Linked DNA regions of Homo sapiens. The protein of the gene in region 1 interacts with the protein of each later gene in a biochemical or structural test. Each region holds a gene or a part of one and is shown in the gene's direction. Other genes may lie near its edges. The genes, in order: ATRIP, CEP164, RPA3 and MCM6.

The links.
Region 2: the proteins of ATRIP (region 1) and CEP164 form a complex in vitro, tested with the Homo sapiens proteins (one study listed by BioGRID).
Region 3: the proteins of ATRIP (region 1) and RPA3 form a complex in vitro, tested with the Homo sapiens proteins (one study listed by BioGRID).
Region 4: the proteins of ATRIP (region 1) and MCM6 form a complex in vitro, tested with the Homo sapiens proteins (one study listed by BioGRID).

The regions. Positions count from the first base shown.
Region 1 is NC_000003.12:48,449,242-48,454,508, forward strand, and holds part of ATRIP (ATR-interacting protein), read left to right. Parts: intron 1-795; coding exon 796-929; intron 930-1,251; exon of another isoform or gene 1,252-1,334; intron 1,335-2,487; coding exon 2,488-2,658; intron 2,659-5,058; coding exon 5,059-5,177; intron 5,178-5,267. UniProt on the Homo sapiens protein: Required for checkpoint signaling after DNA damage. Required for ATR expression, possibly by stabilizing the protein.
Region 2 is NC_000011.10:117,389,102-117,394,368, forward strand, and holds part of CEP164 (centrosomal protein of 164 kDa), read left to right. Parts: intron 1-1,675; coding exon 1,676-1,807; intron 1,808-1,897; coding exon 1,898-2,114; intron 2,115-3,124; coding exon 3,125-3,202; intron 3,203-3,394; coding exon 3,395-3,526; intron 3,527-3,902; coding exon 3,903-4,025; intron 4,026-5,248; coding exon 5,249-5,267. UniProt on the Homo sapiens protein: Plays a role in microtubule organization and/or maintenance for the formation of primary cilia (PC), a microtubule-based structure that protrudes from the surface of epithelial cells. Plays a critical role in G2/M checkpoint and nuclear divisions.
Region 3 is NC_000007.14:7,641,029-7,646,295, reverse strand, and holds part of RPA3 (replication protein A 14 kDa subunit), read left to right. Parts: intron 1-5,120; 5' UTR 5,121-5,267. UniProt on the Homo sapiens protein: As part of the heterotrimeric replication protein A complex (RPA/RP-A), binds and stabilizes single-stranded DNA intermediates that form during DNA replication or upon DNA stress.
Region 4 is NC_000002.12:135,838,460-135,843,385, reverse strand, and holds the end of MCM6 (DNA replication licensing factor MCM6), read left to right. Parts: intron 1-2,434; coding exon 2,435-2,551; 3' UTR 2,552-3,760; downstream 3,761-4,926. UniProt on the Homo sapiens protein: Acts as a component of the MCM2-7 complex (MCM complex) which is the replicative helicase essential for 'once per cell cycle' DNA replication initiation and elongation in eukaryotic cells.

The DNA.
Region 1 (5,267 bases):
CGTCTCTACTAAAAATATAAAAATTAGCCGGGCGTGGTAGCACACGCCTGTAATTCCAGCTACCTAGGAGGGTGAGGCACAAGAATCGCTTGAACCTGGGAGGTGGAGGTTGCAGTGAGCCGAGATCACGCCACTGCTCTCCAGCCTGGGCAACAGAGCGAGACTCTGTCTCAAAAAAAAAAAAAAAAAAAAAGAAGGATCATTTATGAGTTTGAACCATGTTCTTAGGTTGAAAAACATCTATATTGCTTACTAGATCTTTCCCTGCTTTGCTCTCAAGAGTAATTCTTCCCAGCACTTTGGGAGGCAAAGGCAGGAGGATTGCTTAAGCCCAGGAGTTCAAGACCAACCTGGGCAACATAAGGAGACCCAATCTCTACAAAGAATTTTAAAATTAGCCAGGCATCCAGGCACAGTGGCTGACGCCTGTAATCCCAACACTTTGGGAGGCTGAGGCGGGTGGATCGCGAGGACAGGAAATCAAGACCAGCCTGGCTAACATGGTGAAACGCCATCTCTACTAAAATCCAAAAAAAAAAAAAAAAAAAAAGCCAGGCATGGTGGCACACACCTGTAGTCCCAGCTACACAGGAGGCTAAGGCAGGAGGATCACTTGAACCCAGGAGGTCAAGGTGGCAGTAAGCAGTGATCACACCACTGCACTCCAACCTGGGTAACAGAGCAAGACCCTATCTCAAAAAAGAAAAAAAAAAAAAAAGTGGGTATTTTCAGCATTTTCTGGCAAAAGTGGGAAAATATTGGGTCCTGAAATGTATATGGAACTATTTTTTACAGGTGATCATAAGGTCCACAGATTATTAGATGGCATGTCAAAAAATCCTTCAGGGAAAAACAGAGAAACTGTTCCAATTAAAGATAATTTCGAATTAGAGGTACTTCAGGCACAATACAAAGAACTTAAAGAAAAGGTAAGTGACTTAACTTGTGGTTTTTGTAGCTAATTCATTCACTTACGTGTTTAAAAGCATTGTACAGTAAAATATACAAAAGTTGTAAAACAAGTGTCTAGATTCATCCCTATGACATGGGAAAAGACTAGGGAAAGAAAACCAGAAAGTTTAGGCTGAAAGAAACTAAATTGTGAGATTCCTAATGCCAAAGGCAAGAAGAAAAACACTGTATACCAGATCCAAAAAGAGATACAAACTGTTAGGGTACTAAGATGAATTTATAGCATGTATCTTCATGTGAATAATACAACTTCATAATGGTTGCTATTTTCATTAGCAGCTTTGCAAGAAAGCAGACACTTCATATCACCATCTGTAGGTCCCTAAGAAAACCAGGAATATGTGGAATTTTAGTTGTGCAAGGTATGTGACCCAGATTTTTTTTTTTTTTTTTTTTGGAGATGGAGTCTGTCATCCAGGCTGGAGTACAGTGACACAATCTTGGCTCACTTCAACCTCTGCCTCCTGGTTTTAAGCGATTCACATGCCTTAGCTTCCAGAGTAGCTGGGACTACAGGTGTGCACCACGACGCCCAGCTAATTCTTGTATTTTTAGTAGAGACGGAGTTTCACCATGTTGGCCAGGCTGGTCTCAAACTCCTGGCCTCAGCCTCCCAAAGTGTTGGGATTACAGGCATGAGCTACCACACCCAGCGACCCAGATCGTTAATGCCTCTTAGAGCCTAAAGAATCCGGCCAGGCGCGGTGGCTCACACCTGTAATCCCAGCACTTTGGTAGGCCGAGGCCAGTGGATCACCTGAGGTCAGGAGTTCAAGACCAGCCTGGCCAACATGGTGAAAACCCGTCTCTACTAAAAATACAAAAATTAGCTAGGCATGGTGGCGGGCACCTGTAATCTCAGCTACTCGGGAGGCTGAGGCAGGAGAATTGCTGGAACCTGGGAGGTGAAGGTTGCAGTGAGCCGAGATCGTGCCATTGCACTCCAGCCTAGGCGACAATAGCAAGACTCCGTCTCAAAAAAAAAAAGGAATCTGGTCAGGCAAGGTGGCTCATGCCTGTAATCCCAGCACTTTGGGAGGCCAAGGTGAGAGAATCGCTTGAACCCAAGAGTTCAAGACCAGCCTGGGCAATACAATGAGACCCTGTCTCTACAGATAAAAGTGAAAATTGGCCAGGCTAGTGGCACATGCTTTGTAGTCCTAGCTACTCAAGAGGTTGAGGCGAGAGGATCACTTGAGCCCAGGAGTTCAAGGTTACATTGAGCTATGATTGTGCCACAGCATTCCAGCCTAAGCAACCCCATCCCCCTCCCTGGCAAAAAGAATCTGCATGCATGAGTGGCAAGTGTATGCTTAAGCTATCTTGATGAATATCAGCTGTCCCATGAACAGGCCTAGCAGACCATGGTGACATCTGGTTGCTGTGGATATATTTTGAGTACTCATTTGTCTGTTTTTCCTGTGCTTTCTCCATCTCCCCAACTACATGTTAAAACAAAGTACCTAAGTAGTTTTCTCTTACAAAGTTTTCACGAGATTAATTTGGGATTTACAGATGAAAGTAATGGAAGAAGAAGTTCTCATTAAGAATGGAGAAATTAAAATTTTGCGAGACTCACTACATCAGACGGAATCCGTTCTAGAGGAACAGAGAAGATCACATTTTCTTCTTGAGCAAGAGAAAACCCAAGCACTCAGTGACAAGGAAAAGGAATTCTCCAAAAAGGTGACCCAGAGCATTTGTTTTGCACCAGCTTTGCCTGCCCACTGAGTTCCTTTGACCAGGGTTGCCTGTAAATCTTCCAGGGAGATTTCAACACTTGTTTGTCTTAAATACTTTCTGCTATCATCTCATTGCCATCCACTCTTCTTCCAGGGTCTGGATATATTTTGGAAAGGGATTTAGATGAAACTCTATTTTGCTGTGGTAGTTGGTCTTGGCAGGAGTAAATAACTAGCTTAGCATTTCTAGAAACAGGTTTACATTAAGGCTCTTTTGCTAGATCAGAAACTCAACTGACCTGGCTTAGGCTAAAAGGAAACGTATTGGCTTCCATATCCAAGTCTGGGAAGAACCGGGGTATGCTGGGACCTTAAATGACTTAAATCTTGCCAGGACATTTTTATTCTCTATGCTATAAACAGGCTCTATACTTATGGTAGAGGGTGTGTTCTCCAGAAGCTCCTGGGCTCATATTTTATAAATACAGAGCAGAATTAAGACTTAGGGCCACATGCAGTGGCTCACACCTATAATCCAGCACTTTGGGAGGCTGAGGTGAGAGGATTACTTGAGCCAGGAGTTCGAGACCAGCCTGGGCAACTAGTGAGACCTCATCTCCACAAAAAAGAAAAAGAAAAAATGAACAAAATTATCCAGGCATGGTGGTGTGCACCTGTAGTCCCAGCTACTCAGGAGGCTGAGGTGGGAGAATTGCTTGAGCCCAGGAGGTTGAGGCTGCAGTAAGCCATGATCATGCCATTGTACTCCAGCCTGGGCAATAGAGCGAGACCCTGTTTCAAAAAAAGACTTAGGCTCCCTCATCTCAAGTTTTAAAATTCTGAGAAAGGCTCTGATTGGTTTAACTTGAGTCAGTTGTCTGTCCCTGGCCAATTGCTATAACCAAAAGCAACCAAAAGCAAAAAAATGACAGCTCCCATTCTAATAAAATAGTCAGAGGTAGGGAAATTATTGAATTTTTTTTTTTTTTTTTTTTTTTTTGAGACAGGGTCCAGGGTTTCACTCTCTTGCCCAGGCTGGAGTGCAGTGGTGCAATCACAGCTCACTGCAGCCTTGACCTCCCAGGCTCAAGCAATCCTCCCATCTCAGCCTCCCAGGTAGCTGGAACTATAGGCACACACCACCAGGCAAAGCTAATTTTTAAATTTTGGTACAGACAGGGTTTTGCTGTATTCTCCAAGCCGTTCTCAAGCTCCTGGGCTCATGCAGTCCTCCCACCTTGGCCTTCCAAAGTGCTGAGATTACAGGCGTGAGCCACAATGCCCAGCCTGTTTCTCAGGGAAAGGAAAATGCTATTCTGGAAGGAAAAACAGTAGGTATCCAGTACCTACTACAACTTTCCCTCAGCACCTCCTCATGCTTCAATCTCAAGGACATGGGATCTTATTCTCATTGTTTCATTCAGCAAACTTAGCAAACTTTAAGCACTTACCTGTGCCCATCATTAACCGCAATAGTTAACTTTCTGTATAAGTGATGAAGAGCAAGGAATTTGCGGTCAGACAAACCTGAATTTGAATCCAGGCTTCATCACACATAAGCAGTGACCTCAAGGTAATAACTTAAGCTCCCTGGCTCATTTCCCTTATCTGTTCCAAGACATAACCAGAAAGGTTGTTGGGAGACTCACACATTCTTGCACTTACTGTGTCTGGTGCTGGGCCTGGCGCAGAGTGTGCTTGGGGAATGATGGCAGTTACTGTTGGCTGTAGCAACTGCAGGCCAGAGCAGCAGGTCTCTCTATACTGCACAGTGTCTTGGTAAACTATTCCAACTACTCTGCCCAAACTTTGAGGAAGACCTGGAATTGTGCACCAGTGCGTTCGTTAATAAAGGTCAATATGTTACTGCTGACATAGGGCACCTTACCAAGCTCTATGCTGGGTATTTTACACTCATCATTCTACTTAATCCTCCCAACTATCATGAAGACAGGTGTTTTATGTTACAAATAAGTTAGGATTCAAAGACATTAAATAAATGGTGGGCTGGTATTTAATTCTTTTTTTTATTTTTTAAATTTTTTGTAGAGGCAAGATCTTGCTATTTTGCCCAGGCTGGTCTCGAACTCCTGGGCTCAAATGATCCTCCCGCCTCAACCTCCCAAAGTGCTTAGGATTACAGGCCTGAACCACCACACCCGGCCAGGGCTGGTATTTAAACCCTCACAAACTACCCTTACAATAGAGTCCAGTATCTTTTTAGAGTACCATATTGTCTTTCAGAAAGAAAGCTAATGTTTAATATTTTAGGACATTTATGTCACAGCAGACTTTCATATGTATTTTTCATTGTTTGTCTTTTACTGGCTTGTGATTTTGAAGCCCAGAGATATTTTTGTGTATATGATGGGACCACTACAAGCATGTTTCTTTTGCCTTCCAGCTCCAATCATTGCAGTCTGAACTCCAGTTTAAAGATGCAGAGATGAATGAATTAAGGACAAAGCTCCAGACCAGTGAACGAGCAAATAAACTGGCTGCTCCCTCTGTTTCCCATGTCAGGTAATGATGGTGCTGGAGGGATAGTTCAGTTTTGCATTATTTAGTAAAAAATCTGCATAACAGTGTCAGGCTGGTCCTAAATGAAGGCCA
Region 2 (5,267 bases), on another chromosome or scaffold:
TGTTAGTATCTTGAAATAGGAAAGAATCCTAAGTCTTTTTTTGGCTTTAGGATTTGCTACAGAAGCTTTTCAAAGGAATTGTCTTCCGAATCACGTTTTTCCTAGGTTTGAATTCCCTGAGCGCACAGCACACATCCCCTGGTCGTGTGGGGCTGTGTGAGGAGTTACCCAAAAAGGATGTGGTTTGTGTAAGCAGGGGGATGTCTGCTTAGGATGAAATGGCCACTGTTGTTGGTGTGTAAATAAGATAACCTTTCATAGATATCACGGCTTGCTTATAGTTTGGGGCTGGATGATGCTGTTCAAATTCAATTAATTTATTAAGCACCTACTTTATGTCAGCTACTATGTGTGGTACCTGGGATATAACAGATTTTAAGACAAGATTCTTTCTCTTGAGAAGCTCCCAGACTTGCAAGGAAAACAGAGATACAGAAGATGAATTATGATGCCATGTGACGCATGGTGCAGAGTAGCATGGGATAAGAAAGGTCCACATGTAAAGTGATGGGAACAGAAAGATGAATTGATGAGCTTGTAGGGAGTTGGAAAGACTTCCCAGAGAGGGAGCTGAGTGTTGAGGAATGAATATGGGTTTGCCAGATAGAAAAGGGAATTCTTGGCAGAGAACCTAGGAAGGAAGAGTGTGGTAGAATGGAGGGATGGTGACTCAGCTGATGTGGCTAGAACAGAGTCTGTCGGAGTGAAAGAATGTGGAATCTGGTTGGGTGGCTATAGCTATCCTTGAGTGAGTGCCATGCTGAGGTGAAGCTGTTGACAGAGGGGAGCCTTTGGAAGAAGTGCTGTACTACCAAAACCCAGAAGCCAGTAGTTTGCTTTTTTTTTTTTTTTTTTTTTGGAGATAGAGTCTTGCTCTGTTGCCCAGGTTGGAGTGCTGTGGTGTGATCTCAGCTCACTGCAACCTCTGCCTCCCAGGTTCCAGCAATTCTCCTGTCTCAGCCTCCCAAGTAGCTGGGATTACAGGTGTGCGCCACCATGCCCGGCTAATTTTTGTATTTTTAGTAGAGACGGGGTTTCGCCATTATGGCCAGGCTGGTCTCGAACTCCTGACCTCAAGTGATCCACCTACCTCGGCCTCCCAAAGTGCTGGGATTACGGGTGTGAGCCACCACGCCCGGCCATTAGTTTGCTTCTTGAAGCAAAGGGGAGTTCATGGTCCCTTCGTAATCCTGGGAGGTATTAGGGAGGCAGCAGTGGACCTAGAGGCTAAGGTTAGACTCATCTTTAAGATTTAGGAAGCTTTGACTGGGCGCAGTGGCTCACACCTGTAATCTCAGTGCTTTGGGAGGCTGAGGCTGAAGGATCACTTGAGCCTAGGAGTTCAAGACCAGCCTGGGCAACATAGCGAGACTCCATCTCAACAATTAGCTGGGTTTGATGGTGCATGCCTGTGGTCCCAACTACATGGGATGCTGAGGCGAGAGGATTGCTTAAGCCCAGGAGTTTAAGGCTGCAGTAAGCCATGATCACACCACTGCATTCCAGCCTGGACAACAGAGCAAGAACCTGTCTCCAAAAAGAAAAAAAAAAAAAAAGATTTAGGAAGTTTCTTAGGCAGGCAACAGGGCTATTGGAGGCTGAGAGCCATAGCTTATGAATAGAAGAAAGACCTTTGTGGTTTCTCTGACAACCTAGCCTTTCCTTTCCATCTCAGTTCCTTGAGGGAGCGGCTGCAGAAAGCCATTGAGGAGGAGGAGGCCCGGATGAGAGAGGAGGAAAGCCAGAGGCTATCCTGGCTCCGAGCTCAGGTCCAGTCCAGCACACAAGCAGATGAGGACCAAATCAGGTAAGTGTGTGCTTACCTGTGAGCTGCCCAGCCCTGCGGAGGCGACCCCAGGGTGCACAGGCCCGTTACCATTCCACTGTGTCCACCCAGGGCTGAGCAAGAGGCTTCCCTGCAGAAACTGAGAGAAGAGTTGGAGTCTCAACAGAAGGCTGAGAGGGCCAGCTTGGAACAGAAAAATAGGCAAATGCTGGAGCAGCTCAAGGAAGAGATAGAGGCTTCGGAGAAGAGCGAGCAGGCTGCCCTGAATGCTGCAAAGGAGAAGGCTCTGCAGCAGCTGAGGGAGCAGCTGGAAGGGGAGAGGAAAGAAGTGAGCTAGTCAAGTGGGGACCTCACCCTCTGACCTGTGTCTGGGCTGCCTGGGGAGGGACTGAGTGCACAAGGAGAAGAAGGGCAAGTCTCGGGTGGGCGTGCAGGCTGGGGAGCCAGGTGGAGAGTAGGTCTCACACACACAGGCATGGGAGACAGCGAGATGACCACCTGGGCCCATTACTCCATATGGACCGAATCGGCTCATGACAGGGCAGAGGATGCAGCAGGCATCACAAGGCTCCTCCAGGGTCAGGCTGGATGGCAGTGGCGGCTGGAGGTTGTCAAGCAGAGAACCCTCAGAGGCTTGAGGGAGAGCGTCCTGTGGATTTGAGAAAGTTCGTGACTGAAAGAGATTTAGCCAGACCAGAGGTTTTGAGACAAAGGCGCTCTGTCCCTCACTGTCTCTGAGGGACAGCTGCAAGGGCCTCACTCCCCACTTTTCTCTCCTTTCTTAGGATGAGAGGCTAGCAATATAGCAAGGATTTTCTCTTTGTCCATACTCCCTCTTCTACTCCAGTCAGATGGTGGGCTTCTGAAGGTTTTAGCACAGTCTCTCTGAGCACTTGTAGTACAGTGCACTTCCCTACTCCTGCTGTAGTGTTTTCCTTGTCTAATAGCTGCAGCTTTGCACCTCACCAAAATAAAAAGAAAATTCTACATGGCCCGACTTAATGACAGCATCCAACCTGGCCCCCCTGGCTTGGATCTTATTTACCAGCATGAGCACCATCTGTGGATCTGTGGCCTAGTCTAAAGGCAGGGGGTGGGAGCAGAGAGCCGAAACTTACTGAAATGCCCCTCTCCTCTGACCTTCATGTTCCTGTTCATTTGCCAGTTGTAGACTTCAGGGGCTGAGTTATTTCAGAGGAACAAAGATGTGCTGTGCTTCCCCATGCTTCCCTTGACCCTGATCTCGAGGGCTTGGGGGTCGGTAGTCTTCCTGGCTCCGCCTCCCACCATGATCAGTACCTGGCCAGCTTCACTCACAGTCCCTTTGCTCCTCCCCAGGCTGTGGCAACGCTGGAGAAGGAGCACAGTGCTGAGCTGGAGCGGCTCTGCTCCTCATTGGAGGCCAAGCACCGGGAGGTAAGATGCAGCATCCTGGGCCCCCTTCATGGCTGATTAGCAGAATTCAGCCCCATCCCTGGCTACTAGGCAGCGAGCCTCTCTCTCCAGCCCTGGGGGATGGATGCCAGGTCCTCAGAACACATCCCCACACAGCAGCTGTACAGTCTGTCTGAGGGTCACACTCCCCTGTGTGTGCGGGGGCCTCCTCAGGTGGTCTCCAGCCTCCAGAAGAAGATACAGGAAGCTCAACAGAAAGAGGAGGCCCAGCTGCAGAAGTGCCTTGGGCAAGTGGAGCACAGAGTTCACCAGAAGTCTTATCACGTGGCTGGGTATGAGCACGAGGTGAGTGCTGCTCTGTCTTCCACAGTCGTGTGCGCCTGTTGTGGACTCTCTTACAGTCAGCTGAGCCGGCCTAGCCTCAGCGGCCTCCAGTTTGCTTTGGATGGCTCAGCTGGGGTTAGCATTTCTAGTTCCCTTTTTATGCCTTAGTTCCCTTGAAGCCAGGTACTCCTCCAATCTGATGCCCCTGTATGCATGTGGGGAGGGGGTGTTGGGGTATGGCTGTGTGCTGACCATGGTGTCATGGCTGTGTGATGTGCATGTGTTGTGTGTGTTGGGGGAGATTGGGGAAATGTGTGTAAGACCTTCAGGTGCAGCAGGCCCTGAGTGCTGGTCCGCCTCGGTTCTTCATGCCACATCCCTGCCATCTCCCCTGCAGCTCAGCAGTCTCCTGCGAGAGAAGCGCCAGGAAGTGGAAGGGGAGCATGAGAGGAGGTTGGACAAGATGAAGGAGGAGCACCAGCAAGTGATGGCTAAGGCCAGAGAGCAGTATGAAGCTGAGGTAGCTCAGCCACATCCCCTGCGCGCATGCACACACATGCACACACACATGCACGCACATGCACACACACATGCACACACACATGCACGCACATGCACACACACCCCGGGGTCCTTCCCACCTGGCTGTGGGGCAGAGGAAGGGGATAAACTGTGGTCAGGGATTGTGGGAGGTTTTCCTTCCTGGTACCCTGCCACGATGATGTTTTTTGCCTTTTTTATTAAAACATGAGAAAAACCTCCACCTAATGGGGGGCAATTCCTCTTTTATCAGGCAGGCTGTACTTTCTTCTGATAGTAAAAAGAACCCCCATACATTGAGCTTGTACTGTGTGCCAAGAACTGTTCTGAGCTCTTTATCTATTTTAACTCATTTAGTCCTCACACCAGCCTTAGGAAGGATCTACTATCATTGTCTCCATTTTAAAGATGAGGGCACTGAGACTTGGAGAGTTTAAGTAGCTTCCCAAGATCACACCCAGCCAATAAGTAGAAGAGCTAGGATTCAAGCCCAGGCCATCTGACTCCAAAGCCTTCAGTTTCCTCACTGCAATGCTGTGTCACCAGGGTTCCTCAACATCTTGGGACACCAAGAAATAGACTGGCAAGAGCCAAGTAATACTGATATTCTCCCCATTTTAAGCCTTTGGTCTTAAGGTAGGAAAGTTCAGCGACTTGAGTTTACCCAAGCTGGCCTGCCTTGCTCACATTGAGGGTGAACAATGGGTGGGTAGAGGGTGGCTGACTATAGCCCACAGCTGGGACCCTGCAGGGTGTTAAGACTACTGCTCCAGTAACTGGAACCAGTATCCCAGACTCTTTCTAGGATCTTTCCCAGGGCAGAAATAGCAGTCCCATGATGAAATTTGCCATATCCCTTCCCCCAACCAATTATGACCTTGCTGAAGAATAGTGATAATTTATCAGTGACCTCTCATTCCTTACAGAGGAAAAGTTGTATATGGTGGAGCCATAGGGAGAGCCAGAAAGGGAATCTGTCGTGGTGTCTGACCAGCCTCTGCTTCAGCTCTAGAGGGCTGCAGGCTTGCTGGGGCCAGGGCCGGTGCTGTGCTTGTAACCCTCCTCTTCTCCAAGAGCTGGCTTTAGGGAGCCGATGGTGTCCCTGATCTTACTGATGCAAGGCTGCAGGGCTAGGGGAGCTGTGATTTTTGTGGTAGAAGGGGCTGCCGCAGCTTCCCACCGGTGGGCCCACCCTCCTTGCAGGAGAGGAAGCAGCGGGCTG
Region 3 (5,267 bases), on another chromosome or scaffold:
GTATCACCATCCCACTGAGAGCCACCTCCATCACTCAATAAAATGCCCACATTCACCATCTTTCAAGCCCATGTAACCTGATTCCTCCTCGATGCTAGACAAGAATTCAGGATGCACTGGGTGTGGGAACCCAAAAAGGCTGTCACACTGACTCTACTGAGCTATTTAACACTTAAGCCATTCCCAGACGGCAGGGCTAAAAGAGCACTGTAACGCCCCTAGACACTGCCATGGGGCTGGAGGCCCAAATCACTCACCCCAACTCCTGCACCTGCTCACCTGCATGCTCCCTCTCCCGTAAGGGGTTTGAGTACACGGCAGCCGAGCAAACGAGCCACACCCTGGTTCCAAGTCCCACAAAGGGGTCCAGGGAATTCTCCTGTCTTATAACCATAATGCCAAATTTTGACAAGGACTATACAAAAAAGGAAAATTACAGACCAATCTCACTCATGAACATAGATTAAAAAAAAAAAAATCCTAAACAAAAACAACAGCAAATCAAATCCAGGAATATATATAAAAGACAATATATCATAACCAAGCTTCCAAGAATGTGAGCTTGGTTCAAACACTGAAAAATACATACTCATTTCAATCATCTCAATTAAGGCAAAAAATGCATTTGATCAAATTCCGTAACAATTCAATTAAAATGCTTATCAAACTAGGAATAGAAGGAAAATTCCTTAATCTAATAAACAGAAATTCAAGTTGGGAAGGACTTCGGGGAATACTCCTTAAAGGAAGCTGAATGCGGGTCCACTTCTCTGCCACATAGAACGTGGATTTACTTGATAGCTGAAGCTCCATCACTTACCTGGCCTATGAGATAACCATAAATATGGAACTAGATATTGAATGTAGAACTACAGAAAGACAGAAAGAACCTGGGGCCCTGAGTCTTAGTGCACTACCACATAAGTACTAAGTTGCACAGCTGTGGACTTCTTTCACATGTGAGAATAAGCGTTTGTGCATTAAAGATACTTTTGTTTATGCAGCTAAACCCCATCTTGACTTAAACACTATTTCTATTCAAAATGGTACTGAAGGCTCTATCCTAGGCAAAAGGTAAGAAAGATAAATAAAATATGTAAGAATTCTTAAGAAACAAAACTATAATTATTCAAATATGAATAGAAAATTCCAAAAAAAACTGATAGAAAATTCTTAAAATGGCATTTCTATATACCAAAACAATCAGTTAAAATCTTTAATTTAAAAAATGATACCATTCATAATAGCAACAAAAACAAGGTATCTAGGAATAAATCTAAGCTAAAAGTCAAAACTTTTATGTAGAAAAGTATGAGACCTTTTGGAAAGATTTTAAGAGGACCAAAATGGCTCAAGGATAGTAAGAGTTGACATTCAGGTGTTACTTTTCCTGAAATACATCCAAGGATACAGTGCAATTTTGATCAAAATTCCAACACAGTTTTTCCTGGAAATTCATAAGCTACATTCTATACAGAAGAGCAAAGAGACAAAAATAACCAAGACATTCCCGAGAACACAGCCCCAGACATCAAAAGTTATGATAAGCTACACTATTAAAGAAAATAGGTAGTGGTTCAGGGATAGAAAAATAGATCCATAGAATAGAATTGACTCCACACATATCTGTAAACTTAAGGTGACAAGTGAAGGTGGCAAAAAGGTGATACAGTCAAATCACATTAGGACAACTGAAATTAAAACAAAACAGAGATTGGAGACTTATCTGACAACATACATGAAGAGTGAATTCTAGATGACGGACTATTAAATATGAAAGGCAAAACTCTAAACATTTTAGGAAAAATAGAATACCTTTAAGAGTACGATGTATCAAAGAATTCATAAATGAGATTTTAATGGACTTTTCTCCTACATTAAACTTAAGGGGGAAAATGTTTAACTATATTAAAAGAGGTCTTCCTAATAAAAAAAAAAAAAGGATGGAATGAAGGAAGGAAACGGAAAGATAGGCCAAAAACAGACAACACTTGTACCATTACAATATCTCACTAATAAAAAGCTCTTAAAAGTCAGTAAGAAAAAGAAAAATCAAGGAAAAAAAGATAAACATAAATAACCAATAAAAATCTGAAAAAATGTTCAAACTTTTCAGTAATCAGGGAGTGCAAATTAGGGTCACGACAAAAAAACACTTCATATCCATCAAATTGGGGGAAAAAACTCCAAGAGTTGCCAAGAATATACAATAACTGTAAACTGTCTTATACTCCAGGTAAGAGAGTAAACTGGTACCACCATTTGGGGAAATCATTTTTTTACTAGTGGCAGAGATCCAAGTTACCCCAAGTTACCGGTGGCCTATCCTCACGGGTCAGTAGCAACTTCAGTCCTTGCCTCCTCAGACGAAAAAATTTGACTGAGGGGCATAAAGCAGAAACAGAGACCCAGGCAAGTTCCAGAGCAGGAATGGAAGTTTACTTTAAAAGGCCTTAAAACAGGAAGAAAGGAAGGTGTGCTTGTTAGAGACCCAAGCGGGAATGTGAAGGTTAAAGAGAGTAGGTCAAGTGTCCGATTTAACCGTTGATCCTTTTTTTTTCGTTTGTTTGTTTTTTTTTTTTTTGAGAGGGAGTCTCGCTCTGTGGCCCAGGTTGGAGTGAAGTGGCGCGATCTCGGCTCACTGCAAGCTCCGCCTCTCGGGTTCACGCCATTCTCCTGCCTCAGCCTCCCGAGTAGCTGGGACTACAGGCCCCCGCCATCGCGCCTGGATACTTTTTTGTATATTTAGTAGAGACAGGGTTTCACCATGTTGACCAGGGTGGTCTTGAACTTCTGATCTGAGGTGATCCACCCGCTTCAGCCTCCCAAAGTGCTGGGATTACAGGCGTGAGCCACCGCGCCCGGCCCTGATCCTAGGACTTTTACAAGCTTGTCTATTTCCCATGATTCTTTCCTTAGGATAGGCTGCCGGCAGGCACAGAGCCCTCCTTAGCCTTGGGAAGTGTTTTTAGGGAGTTACATGCACGCCCATCTGAGGCTTCCTTCCTTTTTCCGGTGGAGTGTACCTGGAAGATCATACTTTACCATTTTTGTCTCTTAATATGCATGCCCAGGAAGCTGTTTCTCCCTCGGGTCTACATTCAATTAACATTTTGATAACAGGTGTGGACCATCAGGAAATGGCCTCTCCCTGGCGCTGCAGAATTATCATTTTTAGAGAAGCAAATTCGGTAATTGCCAAACCATCCCCCAACATTTCTAGTGGGTTGGGGGAGAGCCCACTACTGTCCCACTCATGCCTACCTGTAACAGAAAAAAAAATATGATCTACGTACATTCGTCAACATAGATGAATCTCAAAAACAAACAAAAGAAGTCAGAAGATACATACGTTTCTGTTTATATAAAGGTCAAAGACTGGCAATATTAAACAACATACCATTTAGCAACGCCTGCATGTGTGATAAAACCACCTAGAAAAGCTTAGGAAGCTTAACACAAATTTCAAGATAGTGTTTACTTATGGCTGTAGCAAGGAGGGCTTCATTGGGGAAGTGCAAACTGGTAAAATTTACTGGTAACTGGTAAAGTTCCATTTCTTCAGCTGAATGACAGGCCCCATGGATTCATTTCATTTCTCTCAAAACTATGCAAATCGGCTAGCTATACTTTTTTCTGTACATCATGTATTTTATAATATTTTAAGTGACTCAAAAATACACGAAAAAGCTGTTTTAAATTATCTTCCTGCTCATCTCCCTGTTTTAAAAGAAAGCCTTTGCTTAAAAGTGGTCTTTCTAACTGCAGGTAAACAACGACATTAACATCTGGTACTCACAGGAGTGCTCTTTAAAAAAAAAAAAAATCACTATTACAGGGTACGCACCAAGGCTCACACCTGTAATTCCAGTACTTTGGGAGGGAGACGGGGGAGGGAGGGATCGCCTGAGCCCAGGAGTTTGAGATAAGCCTGGTCAACATGGCGAGGCCCCATCTGAACAAAAAAAAACAAACAACAAAAAAAAAATCTTTATTAGCTGGGTGTGGTGGTATGTGCTTATAGTCCCAGCTACTTGGCAGGCTGAGGTGAGAGGATCGCTTAAGCCTACGAGTTAAAGGCTGCAGTGAGCTATGTGCATGCTACTGCACTCCAGTCTGGGTGACAGAGAGAGATCTTGCCTCAAAAAAAAATGCTATTAAAGACATTGATGTGTGTACTCTCCCCTATATAATGCACATCAACTTGCTTTGCAAAACAATGCTAAAGTACAAAAGACTTAAAGCTGTAATATAAAATAGACTTTACTGACTTGCACCAATACAACCACAACTTTTTTATACACCACTGACACACATTCTACATCTGTTTAATGAAATCCTTTAAAGTACCGTTAGTGAGTAAAACTAAGACAAACCTATTAAGTGCTAAGGAAACACTAAGGGAGACTATCATTTAATTATCGTACATGAGATTCCAATCTTAAATTGCCACGTGAAGTCTCAAATCGGATCTTTTTTGCTTAAGGGAATTTGAACGATGACAATTCTGTAGCTTTGGGCCAATTCACAGACTCAGTTTCCACAACGTTATAATACCCAATTAAAACTTCTGTCCAATTTCCACCGTACCGTTTGAAGGTATTTTTATGTGCACTCATTCTAGAATACTCCTGGCAAGGCCGCCGGCTTCGGGTCACAAGATGAGCCAGGGACAGATTGGAGACTACCCCCAAATCTCCCAGGAATCGGTTATCTTCCAGACCTCCAGATCGCCCTCCAGAGTCTCGCAGTGTGGAGGGCAACGACAGAAAGACTGCTGAGGGGGTTTAAACTGTTGAGTCAAACATATGGCCAAAAGTCAGAGTCAACTGGGACCTTGCAAATCATTCCGCCTAACCCTTCGTTTTGCAGATGGGGAAAACACGCCTCAGAAGGGAGAACCCTAGCTCGGGGAACCCTAGCTCGGGGTCTAACAACGATTTAAGCTTGTCTCCCCTAGTACTGGCCAGTGGTTCTTCCCCGTTACCCATCCTTAAGTGCTTCTATTGGCTGCCAACACGGAGGGGTTAGCGGGGTGAAAGAACCGGCGCCTCCGCAGTGTGGCCAGGTTGGGCTAAAAAACGTCTTAGAAGTAATCGGATCAATCTCTCTTCTTACAGGTGGAGAAAGTGGAGAAAGTAGAGTGACGCAGCTAAGGGAGTAAATCGACCCTCAGCCAACAAGTGGCAAAAGCCTGAAGAAAGTGATCAAGATCACTGATGACCCCGCTGCCCATCTCCAAGGGGGCGGGTATCACAACCCCGACG
Region 4 (4,926 bases), on another chromosome or scaffold:
GTTTTATGAATTTATCCATCTACTGATGACTTCCACATTTATGTCACCAGCTCTCACCACTCCTGTAAACTCCAGATGTATAGAGCTGGTTGCCTACTGATGAGCGTTTAACAGGCATCTCGTGCTTAATGTGTTCAAAAACAGAGTTGTTCTTCCCTGTTTGCAGTTGAGTTGTTCTTACTCAATTGCTATAGGCCAAATGCCTTGGAATTGTCTTTGACTCCTTGATTCCACTCTCCCCTCACAGCTCCTCTTCAGCAGCAAATCCTCTGACCCCCAGCTTCAGTGTGTGTATATTTTCTTTTCTCTTTTTACCGCCTTCACCAGCCCACCCAAGCCACCAGGCATGGACTGTTGCAGAAGCCTCATAAAATTGTCCTTTTTTTGTATTGGCTTCTTGCTCAGCAGCCAGATAAGTCTTTTTAAAATATAAATCAGATTATTTTACTACCCTCCCTTCCAGTGCTTCTCTCACATTAGAAGGAAATTCAGCCTCCTTGTCATGGCCTGCAGAACTATTATACAGTGTAACCCCTGTCCCCTCATTCACCTAATTTCACAGCAGTCTTCCCCATACCCATTTCACCCCAGTGACACTGGCCTTGATCCCTAGGCACACCAAATATGAGGGCCTTTGCACTCACCCTTTGTCCATTTCCCTAGATATCCTCCTCCTCTCCAATGTCTGCTCAAATGTTACCTCTTCAAAGAAACCTTTCTTGCTAGCCTGCCAAAATAGTAGCCTTCTGCTCTTGCTGTCACCCTGCCTTGTATTTCTTCGTAATGTTTAACATGGCCCAGCAGTATATTCTTTATTTAAGTGGTTAGTTTGTCTCTCTTATGGAATATAAGCTCTGTGAGGGTAGAGACTTTGCCCCGGAGCTACAGTGGTACCTGGCACATAGCAGGATCAAATATATGTTGAATGGTTAAATTTTCCTATTATGTGGCAGAGATTTAACTGTCGTGCCAATTCACAGGGCTCACTATATAAATATTACAGAGGTCATGTATTGGGGTTGTGTCTTCTCAAAAACCGTTTTCCTGTGAAGGTAGATCAGTCTGTGATTATTGAGGGGTAGGGAGGTGTAAGAACAGCTACTCAGATCAGGGTCCAGAGTTGCTTTTCTAGTGGTGGGACATGTCTGTGTGCTCCTTGGGATCAGTGTAAAGTAAAACGACCCAGGCAAGGAATCTGCTTCAGGACTTTGGAACACACTGTGAAGCTAACTGATCTAAACTTGAATTACCTATTTATTTATTTATTTATTTATTTATCTTTTGAGAGAGTCTTGCTCTGTTGCCCAGACTGGAGTGCAGTAGCATGATCTCAGCTCGCCGCAACTTCCGCCTTCTGGGTTTAAATGATTCTCTTATCTCAGCCTCCAGAGTAGCTGGGATTACAGGTGCCCGCCACCACTCCCAGCTAATTTTTGTATTTTTAGTAGAGATGGTGTTTCACCATGTTGGCCAGGCTGGTCTCAAACTCCTGACCTCAGGTGATCCACCCACCTCAGCCTCCCAAAGTGCTGGGATTACAGGCATGAGCTACTGCGCTCAGCCTGGATTACCTTTTAAAATTTGGCTTACCACCTGAACTAATTTGCTACAGAAAACTAGAGAGCTTATACTGTGCTGATGAGATATGATGCTTCCTATGAAGGTATGTTAACACATAGAGTGAGTGCTTGAAAGTGTCCAATCTAACTTCAGGGGTAGATTTGAAAGGGCAATTTTTTAAAAAGTGTCCAGTCCCCCTTAGTGGCTTCAGTGTTTATACTGTGGAGCCTTGCCAGACTTCTTAGGATCAAATCACAGTTTCCTGAGTTCCTTTCTATGGGCTTGGCTAGGAGCTCTTCTCATTTGTGGACAGTTTTGACTAACCTGTAATTATATCGTGGGCTTAAAATCTGTCATCAAGATTTTAAGCCAGATGGCATGTTCTACCTTTTTTTTTATTAGCTCAGAGTGAAAAATTTTTCAGATGAATTTTCATAGATTCTTCTCCTAACTCTATGAAATGGTGGTATATGAAAAAGTTCAGTGGTCATAATTAAAAATTGCTGAATGATATTAAGTATGAAACAGACTTCCAATTAATTAGAAGATTTTGCAGAGTTGTTTAACCTTAAAATTCAAGCATTACTTCCTTTTTTGAAGTTGTATTTACAAGCATTTGATGTAATATATTTAAGTATTTCTTAATTTTCCACAAGGGGTTTATGGTATGAAAAGGTCAGCATCCTACTAGGAACAGGGTTTAGCAGAGCACTGATAGTGATTTTTAAAGTGTGGTCCTTTTCCTAGGAGTTTCTAGTTGGGAAATGAAAGAAAATGTTGATAGCAAACACTCGGAAGAAGGGTCAAGTCTTGTATATCTGGACATTGGTATAATACTGCTTGAAACCTGAGGACAAATATTTGTGTTTCACAGGATCATGTTCTAATTGAGCTCACCCAGGCTGGATTGAAAGGCTCCACAGAGGGAAGTGAGAGCTATGAAGAAGATCCCTACTTGGTAGTTAACCCTAACTACTTGCTCGAAGATTGAGATAGTGAAAGTAACTGACCAGAGCTGAGGAACTGTGGCACAGCACCTCGTGGCCTGGAGCCTGGCTGGAGCTCTGCTAGGGACAGAAGTGTTTCTGGAAGTGATGCTTCCAGGATTTGTTTTCAGAAACAAGAATTGAGTTGATGGTCCTATGTGTCACATTCATCACAGGTTTCATACCAACACAGGCTTCAGCACTTCCTTTGGTGTGTTTCCTGTCCCAGTGAAGTTGGAACCAAATAATGTGTAGTCTCTATAACCAATACCTTTGTTTTCATGTGTAAGAAAAGGCCCATTACTTTTAAGGTATGTGCTGTCCTATTGAGCAAATAACTTTTTTTCAATTGCCAGCTACTGCTTTTATTCATCAAAATAAAATAACTTGTTCTGAAGTTGTCTATTGGATTTCTTTCTACTGTACCCTGATTATTACTTCCATCTACTTCTGAATGTGAGACTTTCCCTTTTTGCTTAACCTGGAGTGAAGAGGTAGAACTGTGGTATTATGGATGAGGTTTCTATGAGAAGGAGTCATTAGAGAACTCATATGAAAGCTAGAGGCCTTAGAGATGACTTTCCAAGGTTAATTCCAGTTGTTTTTTTTTTTTTTTAAGTTTATAAAAGTTTATTATACTTTTTTAAAATTACTCTTTAGTAATTTATTTTACTTCTGTGTCCTAAGGGTAATTTCTCAGGATTGTTTTCAAATTGCTTTTTTAGGGGAAATAGGTCATTTGCTATATTACAAGCAATCCCCAAATTTTATGGTCTTCCAGGAAAAGTTATTACCGTTTATGATACTAACAGTTCCTGAGACTTAGCTATGATCAGTATGTTCATGAGGTGGAGCAGTTCCTGTGTTGCAGCTTTTAACAACAGATGGCATTCATTAAATCACAAAGTATGTTAAAGGTCACAAAAGCAAAATAACTGTCTGAGGCTAAGGCCCACGTGGGACAGTCTAATACCCATGAGTACTCAACTTGCCTTGATGTCTGAGCTTTCCAGTGCAATGTGAATTTGAGCAGCCAGAAATCTATTAGTAGAAAGCAAGACAGATTAATATAGGTTAAAACAATGATTTAAATATGTTTCTCCCAATAATTATCTCTTTCCCTGGAATCAACTTGTATGAAACCTTGTCAAAATGTACTCCACAAGTATGTACAATTAAGTATTTTAAAAATAAATGGCAAACATTAAAAACAAGAGTGAATACTCAAGTAGATTTGTCATGGGATTTTTATAAGAAGACTGGTATCAGGTAATGTATCTTTAAAGACTAGGCTGCTCTGCTGACGTAGTAACCATTTTTTATTCCTTTACTTTCCTAATAGCCTTGCTTTCACTTAAGAAAAAAAAAGGCTAGGCACGGTGGCTCACGCCTGTAATCCCAGCACTTTGGGAGGCCAAGGTGAGTAGATCACCTGAGGTCAGGAGTTCGAGACAAGCCTGGCCAACGTGGAGAAAACCTGTCTCTACTAAAAGTACAAAAATTAGCCAGGCATGGTGGTGGGCACCTGTAATCCCAGCTACTCAGGAGGTTGAGGCAGGAGAATTGCTTGAACCCAAGAGGTGGAAGTTGCAGTGAGCTGAGATCATGCCACTGCCCTCCAGCTTGGGCGGCAACAACAACAACAAAAAAAGATTCCCAGGCTTCACCCTCTACAGTCTATGGAAAGTCATGGGAGTCTATTAAAAAAAAACAGACACTATAAACCAAATTAAAAGATGGGAAAATTTTTCTATCACGTTTTAATATGTGATATCCAAACTCCCATTAAGAATTTTTATATCAGTAATAAGATAAAACTCAGAAGAAAAATGCCCAATTAACAAGAAGAGCTTCACCTCTTAAATAATCAGAAAAAGAAAAGCACATAATATTTACGTCAAAGTATCAAAAATGTAAAAGTTTTATAATAGGCATTAGCAAGGCAGACGGATACAGGCACACATCTAACTCTATGTAGGATTTAACTTGGAAGACAATTTGCATTTCAATCAATCAAAAACCATTTTTTTTTTTGAGATGATCTCCCTGTGTTGCCCAGACTGGCCTCAAGCTCCTGGGCTTGAGCAGTCCTACAGTCTGAGCCTCCAAAAGTACTGGCAAAACAGGCGTGATTGACCATGCCCAGCCTGTATATAAGGATATTCATTTGCAGCATTGTTTGCAACACAAAAATGTAAAACCAACCGGTGTTTAATATGCAAGATGTTAATTTATGGTACATTCTTGCTGTGGAAAGCTATGCATCTGTTAGAGGTGGGTCTATATGTTCTGATACAGGCAGAACTCTAAGAGCTATTAAGTGAAGAAAAGGCTGAAAATACATATGGCATAATTCCATATATGTTAAATTGTTCTATAT